2 linked regions of the Homo sapiens genome follow. The protein of the gene in region 1 binds, or shares a complex with, the protein of each later gene. Each region holds a gene or a part of one and is shown on either strand. Other genes may lie near its edges.

What was found. The genes of interacting proteins can lie anywhere in the genome.
Region 2: the proteins of CCND1 (region 1) and AMBRA1 are in contact, whole or in part, in a cryo-EM structure (PDB 9IVD), measured with the Homo sapiens proteins. Residues at the interface, in NP_444284.1 of Homo sapiens: Thr286, Pro287, Thr288, Asp289, Val290, Arg291, Val293, Asp294, Ile295; in NP_001354397.1 of Homo sapiens: Arg54, Ser55, Phe57, Val73, His75, Arg96, Thr97, Trp99, Leu116, Ala139, Arg184, Ile945, Asn1012, Asn1029.

What each region holds. Positions count from the first base shown.
Region 1 is NC_000011.10:69,636,208-69,644,170, forward strand, and holds the start of CCND1 (G1/S-specific cyclin-D1), read left to right. Parts: upstream 1-4,948; 5' UTR 4,949-5,106; coding exon 5,107-5,304; intron 5,305-6,823; coding exon 6,824-7,039; intron 7,040-7,624; coding exon 7,625-7,784; intron 7,785-7,963. UniProt on the Homo sapiens protein: Regulatory component of the cyclin D1-CDK4 (DC) complex that phosphorylates and inhibits members of the retinoblastoma (RB) protein family including RB1 and regulates the cell-cycle during G(1)/S transition.
Region 2 is NC_000011.10:46,591,024-46,598,418, forward strand, and holds the start of AMBRA1 (activating molecule in BECN1-regulated autophagy protein 1), read right to left. Parts: upstream 3,001-7,395; 5' UTR 2,805-3,000; intron 342-2,804; exon of another isoform or gene 102-341; intron 1-101. UniProt on the Homo sapiens protein: Substrate-recognition component of a DCX (DDB1-CUL4-X-box) E3 ubiquitin-protein ligase complex involved in cell cycle control and autophagy.

The DNA of each region.
Region 1 (7,963 bases):
GAAAAAAAAAATAAAATGTAGCTATAGGCAGTTTCTGGACGTTTTCCTATTTGTTAAGCACCTTCTTGCTCCGAGCTTTCCAGCCACAGTGCACTGGACGCCATCGGAAGGCTGCAGCTGCTATTTGGTGCTTTACCACCGCTGAGAAGGTGGAATGGTCACGGCCCGGTTCTGTCACTTTCTTCAGCCGGACAGTCGCCTTATTACGGATTCCAGTAGGGCCGAGCACACTCCTTCCTGCCCGTCTTTACAGATGAACATGCTATCGCTCCAGCAGTACAACCCGCCTTATTACGTAAAAAAGCAGCCCCTATCTACCCGCAGGGAAGGAGTATGTTCGGCACCACAGCTGGACTGGTGCTCGAGTTAAGCGTCCTGGGAGGTCCGCATGCGCTCCGGAACCGTAATGCGCGCTTTTTCTAAGCCTTACGGTAAACGCGGACGCAGGGCAACCACGTGGCGGTGGAACCGAGGCCCGGCGGGAATGCGCGGAATGCGCGGCGCGGCCTCGCGCGGTTCCCGAGCCACGGCCCAGGGTCCGGCGGCGCGCGCTCTCGCCTCCTCCCCTCACCTCTCCCAGCCGCACCCCGGCCCTGGCCCTGCCGCCCAGAACTCGCTGGGCAAGTCGTGCCCCGCGTGAACACACAGAAGGGGCTTGGGGACCGAGCGCGGCCCATCAGTCCCTCAGACCCTGAGGACCCAGAATTCCCTAAGGGGTCCGAATCCGAGTCCTGCCCCCAGCCCTTAAGGCACGGGCTCCAGGGACCCCAGGGGAAGGGCGCGGGGCATTAGGTACGCAACCCGTTTCCCCGCACCTGGAAAAAAACTCCCTTTCCCTCCCCTCCCCTGCTTGTTGAGTGTCCGGATAACCAGAACTCTAAGGCGCCCCGTAATAACGACCCCGCTGTCCCTCCACCCACCCCCAAGTGCCAAAGCGAGGGATGGAAGCGCTTTCAAGCGTTCCAAGGGCATTGAGGAGCGAGCTGGAGAGGCGCGGGGATGCGGGGTCCTCCCCGCAGTCTTCCGGAAAGGGCGGGGGAGGGCGCGGCAAGTTCCGGAGTGGGGCATGCCGTGGGAGCCCACGAGGGCCTCAGCGCGGATCCTCCGCCGGAAAACCGGCTCCCGCGAGCCGCCGCCGCAGGTTTCCTAGGCCCCGCGAGTCCCGCAGCGAAGCCCTGCGTCTCCGTCCGACGCGGGGGTCTGCTCAGCCTCGGGTGGGCCGCGGCCAGGCCTGACTGCGGGGGAGAGGGCCGAACGTGACCTCCGAGGTCACCCCCAGCCAGCTTTCTCTCCTGTGGTCGGAAGTGGTTTTCTTCTCGATCTGGGCGCCTACTCCCCACCACTTGGTCTGAGAGGGGCTGGGGCCGGAAGGCCAGGGAATCTCTGGTGGATTTGGGGGTTCATATTGCTCAGGGTACCAGCCGATGCGTTTTGAGGGGCGGGAGTCGAGGAATTAGAATCGCCTTTAACCCTCAAGAGTTGCGCCTTCAGCCTCGGGATCCCAGATGCGTCGTTGGAGCCAGGGCCGCCCCCCTACCTGTTGGGTTTGCGTTTTAACTCCAGCGCACACCTTGCCGGCAGCCCTCGGAGCTAGGGGAGGGGTCTCGTTTCCCCGCAGCCCGCCGGACAGACGACTGGGGCACGGGAGGGGCGGTGGCAGGGTGGTCTGTGTGTGGCTGAAACTAATTGATCTGGAGCGGAAACGCACGTCTGCGGTTGGGGCGATGGGGGGGGCGGTGCGGCTGTCCATGTGCCGAGCGTGTGGCTGTCTCGGGTGGGCACTGGGGCCGGAGTTCGCCCCGGCCCACCTCGCAGTTTTGGGGCGCCTGGGATCGGCGCTACGTAAGCGAAGCAGAGCTGCCATAGCACGTGGGCCGCCACGCGCACCCCAAAAGCAAGCAGTGTGGGGGGAAGGGGAGCTCGAGCGCCTTCGGAGCCCAGGGGCCGGCTTTCGGAAGCGTTTTCCCGGGCGACTTAAGGGCTTAACAATGGAAAACTCGCGGAGCCTGAGCCAAGTCCTTTCAAGTCGCCGCCAGGTATGCGGCTGCAGGTGACCCCACCTGGGTGCGCCCGCCCGCCAGCCGCCCTGGTGGAAAAGCGGGTGCGGGAGGTCGCTGGCGAAAGGTCGGGACTGGTCCCTGCACCACCCGCCCCCAACCCAAGCCCCGAGCCCCGCGGCGCGCAGCCGCGCTGAGTCCCGGGGTCTGCGTCGCGGCGCGCCGGTTCCTGAATGAACGCGCTCCCTTCCCCCGCCTGAATGAAGGTTCCCACAGCCAGGGACGGTGGCGAACACGCGCCTGCAGCGGAATTCGCTTTCTCCTGACCGACCATCCGCCCAGGCCGCGGTCACCGGGGCGGGGGCCAGGGGGCGAGGAAAGCGTGAAGGTGATTTCAGTTAATTTTGGATTTTCTTTCAAACAACGTGGTTACCCTCCCGACTGGGCCACTTGCCCTTTGTCTCCAAATGGTCACCAAGAAATAAGAACAGAGCACTTTAAATGAGCCCAGAATCCGCAGTTCCTGCTTCGTGGTGGGTTTTAAGAAGACAGTGTAAAGTAAAACTGCAACCGAAAAGTTTTTTAAAGTTGCTTTTCTCTTTGGAAAAAATAAAATCAAAATGCTTTCTCTGCGCTTCTTGAAGCAATGACCCTCAAAAGCCCAGAGGTATTGGCCCCCTCGGGGGACCCGGGGGCCGCCAAGCAGGGTTCCCCCAGGTGGGGGCTGGGCAGCTGGCGCTCCCCGCCGGGCCCCAAATTCCAGCGCCGGGCCCCAAATTCCAGCGCCTCCCCCGCGGGTTCCTGGACGGCTCTTTACGCTCGCTAACCGGGCTTGCAATTTTGCGCTCGTCCCTGAGCCGGGAAATCAACGAAGTTCCTAGTCGAGATCTGCCCGGTCCGCCTAGTAACAGCGCCGCGCCCCCATTGGCTCATGCTAATTCCAGTTTCCTCTGTCTTGCGCCCGGGATGGGGGGGTGAAGCTCCCTCCTGGACCCAGAGCCGGTTGTGCCGGAGTGGGCGAGCCTCTTTATGCCCTGCTGCCCCTAGCCGACTTCGGCCCGCTTCGCGCCTCGGGCTGGGCCAGGGCGCACGCGGGGCTCGGGGCCCCTCGCCCCACGGGATGGGAGAGGCCGGGTGATAGCTCCGGGCCCCATAAATCATCCAGGCGGCCGCCGGGTCGGGATTTTATGAATGAAAAAGCAGCTGGGCCGCCCTTGTGCGCGGGCTGATGCTCTGAGGCTTGGCTATGCGGGGGCCAACGCGATTGTGGGTGCTCGGGGAGTGGGGGGGGGCACGACCGTAGGTGCTCCCTGCTGGGGCAACCCATCGCTCCCCATGCGGAATCCGGGGGTAATTACCCCCCCAGGACCCGGAATATTAGTAATCCTAATTCCCGGCGGGGGAGGGGGCGCGGGAGGAATTCACCCTGAAAGGTGGGGGTGGGGGGGGTCGCATCTTGCTGTGAGCACCCTGGCGAAGGGGAGAGGGCTTTTTCTATCAGTTTTCTTTGAGCTTTTACTGTTAAGAGGGTACGGTGGTTTGATGACACTGAACTATATTCAAAAGGAAGTAAATGAACAGTTTTCTTAATTTGGGGCAGGTACTGTAAAAATAAAAACAAAAGTTAAGACAGTAAAATGTCCTTTTATTTTTTAATGCACCAAAGAGACAGAACCTGTAATTTTAAAAACTGTGTATTTTAATTTACATCTGCTTAAGTTTGCGATAATATTGGGGACCCTCTCATGTAACCACGAACACCTATCGATTTTGCTAAAAATCAGATCAGTACACTCGTTTGTTTAATTGATAATTGTTCTGAATTATGCCGGCTCCTGCCAGCCCCCTCACGCTCACGAATTCAGTCCCAGGGCAAATTCTAAAGGTGAAGGGACGTCTACACCCCCAACAAAACCAATTAGGAACCTTCGGTGGTCTTGTCCCAGGCAGAGGGGACTAATATTTCCAGCAATTTAATTTCTTTTTTAATTAAAAAAAATGAGTCAGAATGGAGATCACTGTTTCTCAGCTTTCCATTCAGAGGTGTGTTTCTCCCGGTTAAATTGCCGGCACGGGAAGGGAGGGGGTGCAGTTGGGGACCCCCGCAAGGACCGACTGGTCAAGGTAGGAAGGCAGCCCGAAGAGTCTCCAGGCTAGAAGGACAAGATGAAGGAAATGCTGGCCACCATCTTGGGCTGCTGCTGGAATTTTCGGGCATTTATTTTATTTTATTTTTTGAGCGAGCGCATGCTAAGCTGAAATCCCTTTAACTTTTAGGGTTACCCCCTTGGGCATTTGCAACGACGCCCCTGTGCGCCGGAATGAAACTTGCACAGGGGTTGTGTGCCCGGTCCTCCCCGTCCTTGCATGCTAAATTAGTTCTTGCAATTTACACGTGTTAATGAAAATGAAAGAAGATGCAGTCGCTGAGATTCTTTGGCCGTCTGTCCGCCCGTGGGTGCCCTCGTGGCGTTCTTGGAAATGCGCCCATTCTGCCGGCTTGGATATGGGGTGTCGCCGCGCCCCAGTCACCCCTTCTCGTGGTCTCCCCAGGCTGCGTGTGGCCTGCCGGCCTTCCTAGTTGTCCCCTACTGCAGAGCCACCTCCACCTCACCCCCTAAATCCCGGGGGACCCACTCGAGGCGGACGGGGCCCCCTGCACCCCTCTTCCCTGGCGGGGAGAAAGGCTGCAGCGGGGCGATTTGCATTTCTATGAAAACCGGACTACAGGGGCAACTCCGCCGCAGGGCAGGCGCGGCGCCTCAGGGATGGCTTTTGGGCTCTGCCCCTCGCTGCTCCCGGCGTTTGGCGCCCGCGCCCCCTCCCCCTGCGCCCGCCCCCGCCCCCCTCCCGCTCCCATTCTCTGCCGGGCTTTGATCTTTGCTTAACAACAGTAACGTCACACGGACTACAGGGGAGTTTTGTTGAAGTTGCAAAGTCCTGGAGCCTCCAGAGGGCTGTCGGCGCAGTAGCAGCGAGCAGCAGAGTCCGCACGCTCCGGCGAGGGGCAGAAGAGCGCGAGGGAGCGCGGGGCAGCAGAAGCGAGAGCCGAGCGCGGACCCAGCCAGGACCCACAGCCCTCCCCAGCTGCCCAGGAAGAGCCCCAGCCATGGAACACCAGCTCCTGTGCTGCGAAGTGGAAACCATCCGCCGCGCGTACCCCGATGCCAACCTCCTCAACGACCGGGTGCTGCGGGCCATGCTGAAGGCGGAGGAGACCTGCGCGCCCTCGGTGTCCTACTTCAAATGTGTGCAGAAGGAGGTCCTGCCGTCCATGCGGAAGATCGTCGCCACCTGGATGCTGGAGGTGCGGGGCTTCGGGCGGCTCTCTTAAGACTTCCCTGCAACTTGTTGCCCAGACCCACGTTTCTTTGCTACTCACCCCCCTCCCTTCTCTCCCGCTAGAACTTTGAAGTTTGCCGTGGTGTTTCTAGGGATCCGTATTTTCAAAATAAAAATTGCGGGTATTTTCTGAAGGAGGAAGGGGTGGGGGTGGGGGTGCTAGAAGTAGCGTTTCGTGGGAGGGGAGAAGGGGGTCCGGGAGGGGTGCCTTCGGGAGAAGCCAGTGCCAGGGGCACCCCAATGGGCCCGAGGGTGCGGGCTGGCAGGCTGGGTGCGCTTTGTGTCCCCCGCCTGCGCCCCAGCCCGGCTGCGCCTCAGCGGCCGGGAGCCGCCAACTCCGGGGGGAGGGGGCATAGATTTGATTTTTAAATTAATATCCATGGACACGTATGCAAGGGCCGCTCGTGCCAGTATTATGCGCCATCTTTGCTCTTTTATTGCAAAGCAAAAGTGTTTATTAATAATTGGGGGCAGGGTGGGGGCGGGGAGCGGCCGCCGGGCGCTGGGGCCGCAGCTAAGGGCCGCGCGGCTGCCGGGAGCCCGCGGGAGGGGCGCAGGGACGCGGCATGGGTAGTTTTGGGGGGACGCCGCTAGGGAAGGGGGGGCCTTTGTTCAAGCAGCGAGTCCCGGGGCGCCCCGAACGGGCAGCCTGGGCCGGAGAGCACGGCGAGCTGCAAGGTCGCGTGGCCCCCAAGACGCCAGGGCTTGATCCCCGTCTGCAGGGATATCGGCTTGGAGGACCTTCTCCGAGCGAGCCGGGGGCCTGGGAGCACATTTTCAGACCTTCGGTGGGCGCCTGAGGGGCCCGCAAGTATTTTAAAATAATTTTTGAAAGTGCGGCGTGGTGCCCTTGCGAGAGGGAAACGCCGCCCGCGCCCAGGGGGAAGGGGGGGCCCCGGAGTTTGAATTCCTGGGGCTCCCCCCGGAGCCTGTAACGAACTCCCAACCCCCGGCCTGGGTAAAGGGTCGCCCGAGGGTCATTTTCAGGGTTTTTTTATGCACTTAGTTATTTTTTTAATATTTTTAAATATTTTTTGAAAAGATGACGTCTGGGGAAATGCGGCGCGGCGGCCTGGGACGCCACCTTTGTGTCTCGCAGGCGCGGCGCCCAACCCCGCGGCCCGTTCCGCGGCCCCGCACCCCAGTTGGTGTCGACCCCCAGTCAGAGGGACCACGGAGCTCCAGGGCGGGCCAGGGTCCCGGGGGCCGGCAGCCCGCGCCGCCGCGCACGCCGCCCAGCTGTGCCCGCTCCCGCCCCCACCGTGCCAGCCTCGCGGGGACTTTCCCTTTCAGTTTCGGGGAGGGTGGGTACTGGGGACGCGCGGGGGAGGGGGCGCATCACGGGAAGCTCCTGCCGCCCCCAGCCCCGACCCCTCGGCGCCCTCCAGACCTGGCGGCCCTGCCAAGCGCGATGGGGGGTGCGGGGGCGTGCGGGGGGGCGGCGCGACCTGGCGGCGGCGGTCACGGGCCCCGTGCCTCCGTAGGTCTGCGAGGAACAGAAGTGCGAGGAGGAGGTCTTCCCGCTGGCCATGAACTACCTGGACCGCTTCCTGTCGCTGGAGCCCGTGAAAAAGAGCCGCCTGCAGCTGCTGGGGGCCACTTGCATGTTCGTGGCCTCTAAGATGAAGGAGACCATCCCCCTGACGGCCGAGAAGCTGTGCATCTACACCGACAACTCCATCCGGCCCGAGGAGCTGCTGGTAACCACTGGACCCCGCCGCCCCCCGCCCCCCGCGAGCCGCACGCAGGACCACGGGGCCGGGGAAGGTGCAGGCGGTGGCGGCCGGCCCGCCTCTGACATATCTGCTCCTCCGAGGGAGGGCGGCCCCGCCGCCGGGCGTCCCTGTCCGGGGAGCGGGCGGGATCCTAGCCGCCCTCGTCCCGCCGCCCTGTGTGCGCTTGCCTGCGACTCCCACCGCGTTCGCGCCCCGCGGTGTGGCCGAAAAGTGGGCGGCGCGCGCCCTCCAGCGGCTGCACGAGGAGCGCCGCGCTCGGCGCTGAGCCTCCAGTTCCAGGTGGTGGGAGGTCTTTTTGTTTCCACTTGCAGAGTCTTTTCACGCGGCGGGCGCCTTTTCTGTTTTGATCTGGGATTGCGTGTTGCCCCAGCTCCCTTGAGTCCCCAGCATTCGCCAGCCCTCCCCTCCAACATCCAGGACCGCACGAGACGCAGGGGCCAGTGCTCTGAGCCGGAGGTGCGGCGTGGCCCGGCCCCCGTGCTGCCGGCTTCCCCGCGCCCCCGGGCTGGCCCGCACCTCCCCTGATGGCCGCTCACCCTGTGTTCGCAGCAAATGGAGCTGCTCCTGGTGAACAAGCTCAAGTGGAACCTGGCCGCAATGACCCCGCACGATTTCATTGAACACTTCCTCTCCAAAATGCCAGAGGCGGAGGAGAACAAACAGATCATCCGCAAACACGCGCAGACCTTCGTTGCCCTCTGTGCCACAGGTAGGGCAGGCCCGGCAGCCCCCGGCCTCCCCTTGAGAGCCGGCTCCTTAGGTGACCCTGGCCGGCTTCTTGCTCTCCACCTGGGTGCTGTCTGGGAAGATGTCCCCAGACCCCCTCCTGCGCTGGAGAGCGCTCTTCCAGCTCTGGTGAGCAGAGGCCCTGGATTGTTTGTCGCGCTG
Region 2 (7,395 bases), about 23 Mb from region 1:
ACACCACCAAATTTCTTGGCCTCAATTCAACTTAAGCCTCTGCCAATTATTTCCTGCAGAAACATAATAAAATATTCCTAAGATTGCTTCATGACACTCACAGCAATTTCCATTTGTTATTTAGCATTCATTAGGAGCCAATGAGATAGTCCTTATAACTCTAAATTCTACGCAGAACTTATCAATTCCCAGTGGACAATGTTGCTTTCTTCTCTACATTCTTTCCTCTGATATACATTCTCTTCTACCATAAAAACTTTTTCAAAAATGCACATTCTTAGCTTAACTTCCCAATCTAGATTCTCCATAAAGATAGTCTGGTGGCTCTTCATTAATCCCCTTCTGGGAGCACTGAGGTCGTGTAACTAGGAAATTGCTTATGATTAAGGGCCCTTCATTTAAATCTTGCTGACCTCACACAAAAAATTAAAGGAACAGTAATCTTTCCAAAACTCACATGAGAATACTAAAATAGTGGGAGAATGTGGCCTTGTACAGTTTCCACTCAAGGACTAGGAACTGAATCTCTGCACCCTTAAAACCACTCTCTTAGCCGGGCGCGGTGGCTCATACCTGTAATCCCAGCACTTTGGGAGGCCAAGGCAGGTGGATCACGAGGTCAGGGGTTTAAGACCAGCCTGGCCGAGATGGTAAAACACCATCTCTACTAAAAATACAATAAATTAGCTGGGCGTGGTGGCGACGCCTGTAATCCCAGCTACTCAGGAGGCTGAGGCAGAGAATTGCTTGAACCTGGGAGGCGGAGAAGTTTGCAGTGAGCCGAGATCGCACCACTGCACTCCAGCCTGGGGGACAAAGCAAGACTCCGTCTCAAAAAACACACACACAAAAAAACGCTCTCTTACTGATTCTACATACTTTGGAAACTTATCCAACCCAGAATGACCTCAAGACTGATTTTTTTTTTTTTTTTTTTTTGAGACGGAGTTTCGCTCTTGTTGCCTAGGCTGGAGTGCAACGGCGTGATCTCGGCTCACCGCAACCTCCGCCTCCCGAGTTCAAGTGATTCTCCTGCCTCAGCCTCCCAAGTAGCTGGGATTACAGGCATGCGCCACCACGCCCGGCTAATTTTGAATTTTTAGGTTTCTCCACGTTAGTCAGGCTGGTCTCGAATTTCCGACCTCAGGTGATCCACCTGCCTTGGCCTCCCAAAGTGCTGGGATTACAGGAGTGAGCCACTGCGCCCGACAGGCTGAATTTTTTTTTTTCCAAGAATGAAGTGACACAAATTAGGATCATGGTACTGAATCCGATGAAAATAACAGACTTAGTCCCCAGACTTTCCAAGCTGGGAAGGAAAAGGGAACCACAAAGGAGTTCCCAAAGCGTTAACCTTTCATTTAAATATCTCAATATTTGAATGATTTCTACACACAGCCTTTTTTAGCTTTTGTATGTGCAGTGACCAAACTACTAATCAAATACAACAAAACTGGGCGGGCGCGGTGGATGCCTGTAATTCCAGCACTTTGAGAGGCCGACGTGGACGAATCACTTGAGGCCAGGAGTTCAAGACCAGCCTGGCCAACATGATGAAACCCCGTCTTTACTACAAATACAAAAATTAGCCGAGTGTGGTGGCGCGCGCCGGTACTTCCAGCTACTCGGGAGTCTGAGGCAGGGGAATCGCTTGAACCCGGGAGGCAGAGGTTGCAGTGAGCCAAGATCGCGCCACTGCACTCCAGTTTGGGCGACAGAGCTAGCCTGTCTTAAAAAAAAAAAAGAAAAAAGAGAGACAGACTCCTTGGGTTTCCATTGGATACTCCCCAGAAAGCAGACCCTCACAGGACAAGCGTTTGCCTTCAAAGTCTTGACCATCCTCTACTAGACTCTAACCTCTAACCACAAACACCATAGTTATAAGATTTCCAAAGAGGCTGGGGAGAAGGAGGATAAATCAACCAGGAAACAATGTAGACAACAAGGTTATCAGGAAACAAAGTAGACAACAAGGTTATCAGGAAACAAAGTAGACAACAAGGTTATCAAGAAACAAAAAGAAACTGTCATTGCTACACTAGTTAAAATGATACAGACTTTGAAAAGCAAAACAGCCAAGAAACCACATGGTTCCTTTACTTCTGAAGCCTCTTGTGACAGGATCTATATTCCTAACAGTCTATATTCCTAGGAAAATTGGGATCACAGACGATCAAACAATAACTCACTGTTTTCATAACTTGACTGGTAAGTGGGGGGAAGGGAATTGGTAAACGACAAAAAGTGACTTACAGTGAATTTAATGATCTGTTGGGGATATGTGGGGAAGTCACGTCCCAGACATCAGCCTCAGTTTACCCACCCAGAAAAAGGCGAGAACATAACACTTCGCTCAGAAGAGCCAGAGGGCCTTGTTCCATAAGCCTCCACCTACTCAAAGGTCCCTTCAAAGGCTGGACTCAGTAGGGGTCCCCAGTGCAATTGAGGCATGACACCCGGAGACTTCGGGGTGGGGGGAAAAGGAGAAAGGAAGGAGGGTCAAAGTGCGCAAAGCTCTATCGGTTCCTGGAAAGCCATTTTCGCCACACACTGGGGGTGCCCTAGACCCAACATCTCCTCCCTAAAGAACCACACCGGGAAGCCCCAGCAACTCTCCCTCCTTTCGGCTTCTCCCTCGGTTCCGGGCTGCCCCTCCGGCCGCGCCCCTCAACGCAGTCCGGTAGCCCCTCCTCTGGCAGTGTCACGGCGGCCGGCCAGCCTGCCCACCCGCCGGCGCCAAGGTCTTCTCAACCCCGCGGCGGAAGGATGCCGGGCTGGGCCTCCCAGGCTCCTCCTGGGCCTACCTGCAAGGCAGACGGGAGCTCGGTTTGCAGTCCAGCGAACGGGCTGAGCCACAGGGAAAAAGAAAGAGGAGACAGGAATAAAGGAAGGGGTCCGTTCTACCGACCGGCAGGAGAAGGCGGCTTGAGCGCGGGGCCTCGCGGACAACTCAGCCCTCGACCCGGCGCCGCCGCCGCTCAGGAGACATCAAGCAAGAAGACGGCGCAAAAGATCACCGAATACAAGAACGCCCCAGACATCAAAGGAGGAACGCCCAAGCAATCGTTCAAGGAACCACAGCCGAGCGCCGAAAAACAGCTCAACTCCTACTCAAGGTCCGGCTCCTGTCTGAGGCGTAAATAAACAAACCCAGATCATAAGCCACGGGTTAAAAAAGAGCCTGCACTTCTGCCATTTTCTGTGGGTCGCCGGCTGTTAAAGTTCTTTAGAGAACTGGAGTTTCTCGTGAATGTGTTGAAGATCAAATCATAGCGCAATAACACTTGTTGTGTAACTATAGTCCCCCAACTGTTCTATGGACTCCCAACACTCTTTATCCCAATTGAGCAAATTAGTTAACCTCATTTGACCCTTAGTTTCCTAACAGAGCAGTGAGGGGAATTAAAAATCATAGAGACAGAAAACGAGAGAGAATTCAAGCTGAGGAACAAAATGAACAGTCTACGTAAAAGCTCCAGTTTAGTCCCCACAAAGCATGACCAAGAGAAGCTGGGAAAACCCAGAATTATGTAGCCTGACCTTAAGGCAGGGGGAAAAAAAGCACACGGATTGCTTTTCTCTTTTATTTTCTTCCAAAGGCCTAGAGCCACAGGTGTGCTTCTTACATAATAAGCAAAAGTCTCTTTGGGTTCAGAACCTGATAAAGTGTTGACATTTTCATCACCACAACAATGGCTTTTTTCTGTAGTCTCTTAGTTGATAAATGAATATGCTCAGCACAAATATGGATTAATATGTACATCCTAGATGTGATTCAATAAATCACAAAGATCACTGCAAGTATGGTTACCAATTGTGAGCAATCATAGTCTACCTTACCTGCTCCTAGGGAGGTTTACACCCTTCCCCACTACTCAGAGAGGAAGGGTGTAAAAAGGAAACAAGATAGTCCCAGTTTGTCGGGCGCAGCGGCTCACGTCCATAATTCCAGCACTTTAGGAGACGAGGCTGGTGGATTGCTTTGAGCCCTGGAGTTCAAGACCAGCCTGGGCAACATGGTGAGACTCCAGTCTCTATAAAAAAAAAATAAATAAATACAAAAAGTTAGCCGGGCCTGGTGGCTCCCGCCTGTAGGCCCAGCTACTCGGGAAGCTAAGATGAAAGGATATCCTGAGCCCGGGAGGTGGAGGCTGCGATGAGCCATGATCACACCATTGCACTCCAGCCTGATCTATGGAGCAAGACCCTATCTTAAATTTTTTTTTTTTTAAATGCCGGGCGCAGTGGCTCACGCCTGTAAGCCCAGGACTTTGGGAGGCCGAGGCAGGTGGATCACGAGGTCAGGAGTTTGAGACCAGCCTGGTCAAGATGGTGAAACCCCGTCTCTACTAAAAATACAAAAATTAGCCGGTCGTGGTGGCGGGTGCCTGTTATCCCAGCTTTTCGGGAGGCTGAGGCAGGAGAATCGCTTGAACCCAGGAGGCGGAGGTTGCAGTGAGCAGAGATCGTGCCACTGCACTCCAGCCTGGGCGACACAGCAAGACTCCGTCTAAAAAAAAAAAAAAAAAAAAAAAAAAAAAAAAAAAAAAAAAAAAAAAAGTCCCAGCCTTTGAAGACTTTAATTAAACTCAAAGAGCACATCCTTACAGTATTAGCCTTTTTTAAATAATGTATTGGCACTTTACAAAAATCTCCTCTAAGTCTTTGAAAATACTGCCCAGGCCGGGCGCGGTGGCTCACGCCTGTAATCCCAGCACTTTGGGAGGCCGAGGCGGGCGGTTCATGAGGTCAGGAGATTGAGACCATCCTGGCTAATGCGGTGAACCCCGTCTCTACTAAAAATACAAAAAATTAGCCAAGCGTGGTGGCAGGAGCCTGTAGTCCCAGCTACTCGGGACTACAAAAAAAAAAAAAAAGAAAGAAAGAAAACTCTCCTTCTTGGAGAGGCTTGTGGAGCATAGCTATAGCCCTCATTCAAATTTTACTCAGATAACTACATTGTTTTTGTTTCTTTGTTTTTTGAGACGGACTCTCGCTCTGTCGCCCAGGCTGGAGTGCAGTGGAGCGATCTTGGCTCACTGCAACCTCTGGCTCCTGTGTTCACGCCATTCTCCCGCCTCAGCCTCCCGAGTAGCTGGGACTACATGCGCCCGCCACCACGCCCGGCTTTTTTTTTTTTTGAGGATTCTCGCTCTGTCACCCAGGCTGGAGTGCAGTGGCATGATCTCGACTCACTGCAAGCTCCGCCTCCCGGGTTCACGCCATTCTCCCGCCTCAGCCTCCCGAGTAGCTGGGACTACAGGCGTCCGCCACCACGCCCAGTTAATTTTTTGTATTTTTAGTAGGGATGGGGTTTCACCGTGGTCTCGATCTTCTGACCTTGTGATCCGCCCGCCTCGGCCTCCCAAAGTGCTGGGATTACAGGGGTGAGCCACTGCGCCCGGCCACGCCCGGCTAATTTTTTTGTATTTTTAGTAGAGACGGGGTTTCACCGTGTTAGCCAGGATGGTCTCGATCTCCTGACCTCGTGATCCACCCACCTCGGCTTCCCGAAGTCCTGGGATTACAGGCTTGAGCCACTGCGCCCGGCCAACTACATTGTTTTGAAACCTTGATTGCAGTAAAAAAAACTAATTTCACTGCTCTAGACATTTTCCTTTTTTCAAAAGCTGGAGACTTTTGAGTAAAACACCTGAAAGTTCGGCAAAGATTTATCTAAAATCATCATCTGAAAATGAAAATATTTGCAACGCTGAGTCTAGACTGCTTTGTGAGACCATGGAAAGGGTGGCTTATTCTATGGGCAGAGTTGCACCTTTACAGATAAATTTCCTTTAGAGAACTGTTCTTTTCAAATATGTATGTATATATATGGATTTAAGCTTCAGTTTGACAGCAAACTACTGCATGTTCTTATGGAAATGTTTATTTAGACTGAAGAGTGGATCACAAGAGATCAGGAGTTGAAACCATCAACCTTGCGGGAATCTCCTCACACTAGAGGAAAAACTGTAAAAAAGAAACAAGGCCAGCAGAAGTGAAGATCATCCTGGGCTGTACCCCTGATGTTCCTCATATTGATGTTAAGACTCAAGAACTCATTATGGTGTTTACTGTTGATCACTGAATTCTGGTAGGACTCTCCTCATGGAGCCACTCCCCTGAGGTAGGATGGTGCTTCCCTGAAGTAGGATAACCAGTCTTAGTTTTGCCCAGGACTGAGGAGTTTCCCTGAACATGGGACTTTGAGTGTTAAAACTGTGACAGCCATGGGAAATCTGGGACAGTTCACTCTTAAGCATGGACCTTGCCCCTGTCAATCACATGGAAAAAACTTTGGAAAGACTAAACCAACAAGAGGTCAGGTGTGGCAGCTCACACCTGTACTCTCAGCACTTTGGAAGTCCAGGGCGGGAGGATAGGTTAAGTCCAGGAGTTTGAGACCAGCCTGGGCAACATAGTGAGAACCTGTCTCTAAAAAACAAAAAAATTTTTTTAATTAGCAGGGAGTGGTGGCATACACTGGCAATCCCAGATGTTCAGGAGGCTGGGGCAGGAGGCTCACCTGAGCCCAGGAGGTCGAGTCTGCAGTGTGTCATGATCACACCACTGTACTCCAGTCTGGGCAACAGAGACAGTGAAACCCTGCCTCAAAAAAAAAAAAAAAAAAAAAAGAGGATGAGGATGGGACACACTTGCCTAGGAGACTTGCCTGGAATGAAGGGTGAAGGAGGGAGGGGAGAGAACAGGGAATTGGAGACTGTTCCTTATCTTGGCTCTGGGTTCTGAGAAACATGCCTCTACCACACACTCGGTGGTAGAAATCAGGTTTGACCCTAGCGTGAGATAATTCTGTAATGGTACCGTGAGTCATCTTACTAGGAAGTGCAGGAAGACCAGTCAGGCCTTGAACAGCTGAAATGGTAAGCCAGTTGTCAATTCTGCCATTGCAATTCTGTTCTGTTCTTTTCTAGCCGGTTCTTTTTGTGCTGTGGGGTAATGTATACACTTGATGATGGAATGGTAAAGGTAGTAGTATAGTGACGTAGGAGCAGCCCAGGGAAGGAGAGAGAGCCCAGAACAGCAGGGAACTGCTAGCCGTAGAATGATAGAAGGCTCTCCCTTCTTTGGAATTATTTCTATAAGATAAATCTCCAGTGATGAAATTTATCAATAGATCAAAATGTATGAATATTTTAAGGCTCTAGAATGACAAAGAAATCAGCCCATCTGTAAAAGACAGCATAAAGATTAGAGAAAGTTAACATGTCAACAGAATAATAGATCCTTAATGTTTTGCTGGGCAAACAGGGAGGCCCCTTTTTGAAATTTGCTAATTTATGATTTCAAAGTCTAATCTCCTTTCTCCTGTTCAGTATCCAGAGATCTAATTTCTTCTACTTTACAATCACAAGAGGCCTTCAGTTGTAGTCA